2 linked regions of the Homo sapiens genome follow. The protein of the gene in region 1 purifies or fractionates together with the protein of each later gene. This does not show direct contact. Each region holds a gene or a part of one and is shown on either strand. Other genes may lie near its edges.

Region 1 (4,425 bases):
AGCCTAAGTTTCAACCATCTGTCTGGATTACCTGTTGGAAAACAAATCAATCTTGTGCAACCCAGAAGACACCCACAGACTTCCTCACAAATACCCTCTGAGGCTGCCTTTTCCGCGCAAGTCTGTTTTTTGTTTCTTCAAAGGGAGCCCGTTGGAATTCCCCTCCCAGAGCACCTGGTTCCACACAGGGCCGACCCTCACCCCCTTAGTTCTGGTTATCTCCAGAGATTTCCCCCAACACACACATTCCCTGGTCTAGGGCCCTCAGGCTTCGAGGGTGACCCCAAACACCCCGCATCACCATCCAAAAGCCCCATGATCCCTGAGGGGCAGGCTCAGCCTATGCGGGCCTCGCTGAAGCCCAGTGCGGTGTCTATGCCCAACCCAGGGGCCGCCGCCTCCAAAAAGCCTTCCTAGCCTTACTGACATTTATCCTCTCCTTCCTGGTCACCCAGTGGCATCGTTGTGTGTCTTCCTGGTTACAGTCAGCATCCACTTCCTGCACTCCTCAGACAGCCGGCCAGTGCACCCTCACCCCACCCTTTCCTGACCTCCCGCTAGGCTGGGCCTTCTCTGCAAGGCTAGATTCATATTTTAGCGGCACCAAGCAGTCAGGTGCCTGCTGACGCATGCCTTCATGCAATTCACGACAGACAGCTAAAAGCCACAGAGCACAGCGCGGAATCTAAGGCCTTCCATTGGTGTGCAGGTGGATTCCGCGGTGCTAAACTTTCTTTTGTGGGTGTGGGGGCCGTGGAGGGGGTTGTGCTCTGGCAGCGTTGGCGCCCTAAATGACCTATAGGTAACCTCTAATGGCTTCCGCAGGGGGTGCAGTGCGGAGGACAAGAGCTTGGGGCTCTCTGGCTGAGTGATCTGGGGGCCATTCAACCGGTTTTTTCCTGGAGAAATGGGAATCTTAAGGCCTCTCTGGAAAGGGTGTGAGGGGGTCGAGGGGGAGCGGGCCCCGGGCCTTCAGCGCTTCAGCAGGTGGCTTCCCTTTGCGAGCCCGGGGTCCCTCTTCTGGGAAGCATGGGCTGGGACAAGGCAGGCGCCGGTTTTCTGCATCCCAAATGTCCTGGGGCATGTGTCCCTTCCTTGCTGACCGTGGGTCCGGGCCAGAGCGCAAGGTCCAAAGCCGGCGGCTTGGCTCCACCGCCAGGGGCAAATACCAGGGCGGGATGCGTGCTGCGGGGCGCCCCGGGGGCTCCCCCTTGGGACTTCTAGGGTCCAGGGGTCCCCGCGGGCGCGCCCCAAGCCTTCTCCCTCAGCTCCGGGGGCCCGGGCGCGCGCCCATCCCCCAGCCCCGCGTCCCTGCGCGAGGGCCGGGCTGGGGGTGGGGTCGCCGCGAGCTCGGCCCCCAGAGTTCCCGCGCTCAGGCCCAGGAAGCGGCGGCCGCCGACGGCCCTCGCCCCGCCCCCGCGCTCATCACCTGCTGGCCTGGCGCGCGCGCGGGCGGGAGCGGAGGGCAACGGGGCGGCGCGGGCGGCCGGGCGCAGGGTCGCGGGAGGTGACGCGCGGCGAGGATGGCGGCGCGGGGCCGGGGGCTGCTGCTGCTGACGCTGTCGGTGCTGTTGGCGGCGGGCCCCTCCGCCGCTGCGGCCAAGCTCAACATCCCCAAAGTGCTGCTGCCCTTCACGCGGGCCACGCGCGTTAACTTCACGCTGGAGGCCTCGGAGGGCTGCTACCGCTGGTGAGGCGCGCGGCCGGGCCGGGCGGGCGCCGTGGGCCGGGCTGGGCCTTCGCGCTGAGAGGCTGGGCGGGCGCCGGGAGGCCGGCAGAGCCGGCAGGTGCGCGGCGCGCTCTCGCTGGGCGCTAGGCTGCAGCACTCGGAGCGGCGGGTGCGCGTGGGTCGCCACCACTGCTCATGTCATGGCGCCGTCCGGGCCTCCGCGCCGCTGAGGCGCGAGCAGAGCGGGCGCAGCCTGGCGGCCGTGACCCGCGTGTTCTGGGTTGTGCGGGAGGAGGGGTGGCCTGGGGAGCGGCGTCTGGGACCGCAGGGCCCAAGCCGGCCGGGCCCGAGCCGGCCTGACCCGGGAGGGGGCGCCGGGGCAGCTGGGCCGCACTTCCCTTGAGTCTGGGACCCCAGCTCGGGTTTGTCTGTGACCGCCCTCGCCCTGGCGTGGGAAGTGAGTCTGTGAAACGAAGCGCAGCGCCTAGCGTCGCGGGGAGGAACGGAGACCCTGGAGGAAAGGAGTTTTGGAGGGAAGCCCAGGGGCCGCTTTACAGAGGCGAAGTGAGACGAGGCAGGCCGGCGCTTCCCCTCAGGCTGCCTCGGCGCGGGTCCTGATGCTCAGGGCATTTCCATCACCCTCCCTCTCGGGTTGGGAGTTCTCCAAGGGGTCGGATGCGGAGTGTGACCCTGTGGAACCACAGGGACCCATGAAACCAGAGACCGACACTGACAGGGCGGTGCAGTCCAGCCCTTCCATTTTGCAGACCAGGGGAAATGGAGCTCCTGCCCCTGGCAAGGCTGCGTGGGCACGACTGAGCGCCCTTAGCTTCCCAGCCCAGCCGTCCTAGGGGTGAAAAGATGGGCTTCCGCCCTTCCCACCCCCAGGATGCTCAGTAGTTGCTCCCTTTATTTCTGTTTCAAGACTGGGTCAAGGTTGAGGCAGAACGGGGTGTGACCACGTGACAGCCATGTGTGTAAGCCTGGACATGTGTGTGTCAAGCCTGTTTGAGTATTAGTCTGTGCGTGTATGTAAGTGTGATGCCCGAAGCTCAGACCAGCCAGCTTTCTCTGTTGCTTGCACTATTTGCCCTATTTCTTTCTTTCTTTTTTTTTTTTTTTTTTTTTTTTTGAGACGGAGTTTTGCTTTGTCGTCCATGCTGACGTGCAGTGGTGCGATTTCGGCTCACTGCAACCTCCACCTCCCGGGTTCAAGCGATTCTCCCGCCTCGTAGCTGGGATTACAGGTGCAGGCCACCTGGCTAATTTTGTTTGTTTGTTTGTTTGTTTTTAGAGTGCACTCCAGCCCTTGTTGCCCAGGCTGGAGTGCAATGGCGCGATCTCTGTCCACTGCAACTTCCGCCTCCCCGGTTCAAGCGATTCTCCTGCCTCAGCCTCCCGAGTAGCTGGGATTACAGGCGCCCGCCACAACACCCAGCTAGTTTTTTGCATTTTAGTAGAGACGGGGTTTCACTATGTTGGCCAGGCTGGTCTCAAACTCTGGATTCACTGTGTTGGCCAGGCTGGTCTTGAACTCCTCAAGACCAAGGAGAACTCCTCAAGCGATCCACCTGCCTCAGCTTCCCAAAATGCTGAGATTACAGGCGTGAGCCACCATGCCTGGCTTGTCTGGCCAATTTTTGTATTTTTAGTAAAGATGGGGTTTCACTATGTTGGTCAGGCTGGTCTCGAACTCCTGACCTCAAGTGATCCCGCCGCCTCTGCCTCCCAAAGTGCTGGGATTACAGGCGTGAGCCACTGCACCCGGCCTGCCCTATTTCTTTTTTGAAGGTCTCCTTCCTGAAATCAAGACGTACTAGGTCAGCCCATTGCATTTTGGTTTTAGTGCTTTATGCACCTGGAGGCTCCTATTTCTGGCCTGATGCCAGAGGCTGAACTTGGGCATTAGGTTTTCTGTATCCCAGTCTAAGGCCTAGTCTTGTGTGGGAAAATCAGCTGTTAGTCAATACTGTGGCGGGGATACATGCTCATTCTCTTGTTGAAGCTGTCTGTCCTCTCAGTATGTGGGCAAGAAAGAGGAAACTGGTTATTAAAAACAGCTGGCTTCAAGTGAATCCCTTTGGATATATTTGTGTGTTACTTTCTCTGAGATTCTATAGCTGTACTTTTTTCTTTTTCTAAACTAACAACACTTTTTTCCCCCCCAACATCATTTTCTTTTCTGAGAGGAGCTGAAGGGTGTTGGTGGATTTTAATTTACTTGGTAGGAAAAAGGGAAAAAACATTCTTAATCTCTGATGCATCAGAGAAGTGCTAAGTACCTTATAACGTGTTTGGCGTTGATCTGTAGTTTGTATTGCAGATGTGTGACTGCAGATGTGTGACTGCTATTCAAAGTGTCTTCTCAGAGGTGTTTGGAAATTGTGATTCCCCCTTAACTTGACAGGAAGACATTCTGTCAATCAAGCATTGAGAATATTTTCTTTATTTTTAGTATTGCTGTTCCTAGTGTAGTCGTCTATTGCTGCAGTTTTGAAGAATCTGCTCTGGAGATTTTAAGAGCTGGCCTATAGACATATATCCACAGTCCTCTAAACCTGGGAGGAACATTACCTCTTCATCCAGAAAGTTCATTGTTAAGTCTCTCAGACGAAAAAGAAAATGAGAATTCTGCCAGACCCTGTGGGAACATTTGCACATCCATTGAATTTGCAGCTGAGCTCTAAGTTTACAGAAATCACTGTGTGTGCCTGAGCCAACAGCTTCATGTTTACTTTTCCTATTTTTTTTATTTT
Region 2 (3,807 bases), on another chromosome or scaffold:
ACTGCAACCTTCGCCTCTGGGGTTCAAGCAATTCTTCTGCCTCAGCCTCCCAAGTACCTGGGATTACAGGCACCTGACACCACGCCCAGCTAATTTTTGCATTTTTAGTAGAGATGGGGTTTTGCCATGTTGGCCAGGCTGGTCTCAAACTCCTGAGCTCAGGTGATCCACCTGCCTTGGCTTCCCAAAGGGCTGGGATTACAGGCATGAGCCACCATGCCCGGCCAAAAGTCAATTAAGAAAGTAAACTCGGATATTTAGAGTACCACCATGGACTTAAACAATTTATTATCATAAACTATTATCACCATTATACTTTTTCATGGTCAAATTATGCTAATATTGGCCAGTGACAACCTCTTCAGACTGGTTCCTATGTTCTTTTTTGTTGTTTTTGATCCAGGGTCTTGCTCTGTTGCCCAGGCTGGAGGACAGTGGTACCATCATAGCTCACGACAGCCTCGACATCCTGGGCTCAAGCAATTTTCCCACCTCAGCCTCCCAAATAGCTATGGCTACAGGCATGTGACACCATGCCCAGCTAACTTTTTATGTTTTTGTGGAGACACAGTCTCACTATGTTGCCCAGGCTGGTCTCAAACTCCTGGGCTCCAGCGATCCTCTTGCCTAAGCCTCCCAAAGTGTTGGGATTACAGGTGTGAATGGGGTCACCATACCTGGCCTACGCTCTTTTTTATATAAATCTATTAGTCTTCGAGCACGTCCTTGTTTTCTGACACAGGTTATTCCAGTTGAATCAGCACAAAATAAAAACAAACAATAAGCCTGTGAATGTGGATAGTGAAGCTATTAAGAATTTCCTACAACACTCTGGGAGATTATTAATTGCAGGAGTGGAGAGGTAGGGGTGGACAGTGGGAGGTCGTGTGTCTCAAAAGGTTTTCAATAGATGAAAGGCATCTCTTGTGGGAAAACATTCCTCAAAGAATGTCTATTGGCAAGAAAGAAAAGTGTGTGCTTGGCTTTAAACTTTAAAGGGCCAGTTCCTATTTTTACCTAACAGGCATGCATGTGGAGATCAGAAGTTTAAATCTTTTTTGGTTACTTTAGATTGTGATGGAACAGAATTACAAATAGCTCTTTGAGCTAACTTGTTTTTAAGGAGAGAGGTCTGGGTATGAATTAGTGAGAGACATACAGAGCAAACAAAAATGGAGGTGATTTATTAACCCCAGGGGAAACGAGAGCAGTACAAGAAAGGAAATGTAATTCAAAGCATCCTTCACGGTTCATGTGAACAAGACTCACACAGACATAAGAATGTATGCATTGAATGTTGGTTCAATCAATTTAATACTCTATTGGTTATATAACAGTTATCATGAGGGAATGAGGGAAAAACAAAGTATAGGCCGGGCAAGGGGGTTCACGCCTGTCATCCCAGCACTTTGGGAGGCCGAGGAGGGTGGATCACATGAGGTTAGGAGTTTGAGACCAGCCTGACCAATATGGAGAAGTCCCGTCTCTACTAAAAATACAAAATTAGCTGGGCGCGGTGGTGCATGCCTGTAATCCCAGCTACTCGGGAGGTGGAGGCAGGAGAATCGCTTCAACCCAGGAGGCGGAGGCTGCTGTGAGCCAAGACGGCACTATTGCACTCCAGGCTGGGTGACAAGAGCGAAACTCTGTCTCAAAAAAACAAAAACAAAAAACAAAGTATATACCTGTGAGTTGGGAAGAAGAGAGCAAAATTACATCTAAAATTATACAAACTCAAGAAAGAGCAGTATTTGCAATGTTTAGAAATAATAAATTACGTGTCAGAAGGCTGGGCACAGTGGCTCACACCTGTAATCCCAGCACTTTGGGAGACCAAGGTGGGCAGATCACCTGAGGTTGGGAGTTTGAGACCAGCCTGGCCAACATGGTGAAACCCCATCTCTACTAAATATACAAAAATTAGCTGGGTGTGATGGCACACACCTGTAATCCTAGCTACTTGGGTGGCTGAGGCATGAGAATCGCTTGAACCTGGGAGGCAGAGGTTGCAGTGAGCCCAGATCGTGCCATTGCACTCCAGCCTGGGTGGCAGAGTGAGATTCTGTCTCAAAAAAAAAAAAGGTCTGGTGTGATGGCTCATGCCTGTAACCCCAGCACTTTGGGAGGCTGAGGCGGGTGGATCCCTTGAGGTCAGGAGTTTGAGACTAGCCTGGCCAACATGGTGAAACCCTGTCTCTACTAAAAATATAAAAATTATATATTTTAGGCATATATAGTAGTGCATGCCTGTAATCCCAGCTACTCGGGAGACTGAGGCAAGATAATCACTTGAACCTGGGAGGCAGAGGTTGCAGTGAACAGAGATCGCGCCACTGCACTCCAGCCTGGGTAACAGAGTGAGACTCTGACTCAACCTGTTAAAAAAAAAATTAAATGCCAGAAGAAACAGTTAATTTAAAGTAGCTGTCTCTGGGGAATAAGAATCAGGAATGGGGAAGAGTGGACAGGGAGTTGCTGTTTTTCCTGATAAGTTTTGAAGCACTATTTGATTTCTTAAAGTATGTATGCATATTATTCTGATAAAAAATTAAACTAAGGAAGGAAAATATTTTCACTAAGGCATCTGGTCTACATAGTTTTACAGAATTTTTCTACTAGCCTTTAAGAAGCACATAATTCCTACATTATATAAGCTATTTCAGAGCACAGAAAAAGGCGGGAAGCTCTCCAATTCATTCTGAGGCTACCATAACCCACCATGGTATCAGCTGGGATTACAGGTGCCCGCCACCATGGCCAGTTAATTTTTTGTATTTTTAGTAGAGACAGGGTTTCATTCACCACGTTGCCCAGGCTGGTCTTGAACTCCTGACCTCAGGTGATCCACCCGCCTTGGGCTCCCAACATGCTGGGATTACAGGTGTGAGCCACTGCACCCGGTCAGATGATTTAAAAACTCTTACCTTTTATTTACACCACCAATCACCAATTAGAGAATGTAATTGGGGGGAAAAGCCTTATTCACAATAACAACAAAAACCTTACAAGAAGAATAAATCGAACATGAAATGTGTAAGACCTATATAAAGAAAACTATAAAACTTTACTTAAGGACATAGAAGAAGCCTTAAAGAAATGGACATACCCTTTATTTGGATTAGGAAATTTAATATTGTAAAGATGTCAGGTCTCCTTAAGTGAATCTATAAATCCAACACATTCCCAATCAAAAGCCCAACAACATTTTTTATAGAACTTGAGAAGCTGGCCGGGCACGGTGGCTCACGCCTGTAATCCCAGCACTTTGGGAGGCTGAGGCGGGTGGATCATGAGGTCAGGAGATCAAGACCATCCTGGCTAACGTGGTGAAACTCCATCTCTACTAAAAATACAAAAAAAAAAAAAAAGATAATAAAATAAAATTAGCTGGGCGTGGTGGCAGGCGCCTGTAGTCCCAGCTACTCGAGAGGCTGAGGCAGGAGAATGGCATGAACCCAGGAGGCAGAGCTTGCAGTGAGCCGAGATCACGCCACTGCACTCTAGCTTGGGTGACAGAGCGAGACTCCGTCTCAAAAAAAAAAAAAAAAAAAAAAAAAGAACTTGACAAGCCAATTCTAAAGTTCACATGGGGGAAATGCACACAAAATACCCAAGATATTCTGGAATACGAACAATGACTATGTGTGTGCGAGCAGGAAGCTGGCCTCTGGGCCACTTCCTGGGAGCCGCCTGGGTACTGAGACTCCCCTGCTTTCAAGTACCCTTTCTCTCTACTTCCGGTAAATCTCAGTGGGGAATCCATTTTTTGAGGCTGAAGAAGGGTAGACCCCATTTCACAGCAGGGTT

Evidence for each region.
Region 2: the proteins of NUP210 (region 1) and SMYD4 purify together in Homo sapiens (affinity purification with mass spectrometry; one large-scale study listed by BioGRID and IntAct). This does not show direct contact.

What each region holds. Positions count from the first base shown.
Region 1 is NC_000003.12:13,417,325-13,421,749, reverse strand, and holds the start of NUP210 (nuclear pore membrane glycoprotein 210 precursor), read left to right. Parts: upstream 1-1,427; 5' UTR 1,428-1,523; coding exon 1,524-1,690; intron 1,691-4,425. UniProt on the Homo sapiens protein: Nucleoporin essential for nuclear pore assembly and fusion, nuclear pore spacing, as well as structural integrity.
Region 2 is NC_000017.11:1,819,862-1,823,668, forward strand, and holds part of SMYD4 (protein-lysine N-methyltransferase SMYD4), read right to left. Parts: intron 1-3,807. UniProt on the Homo sapiens protein: Protein-lysine N-methyltransferase. Monomethylates PRMT5, modulating its transcriptional activity. May also act as a histone methyltransferase. Plays a critical role in cardiac development.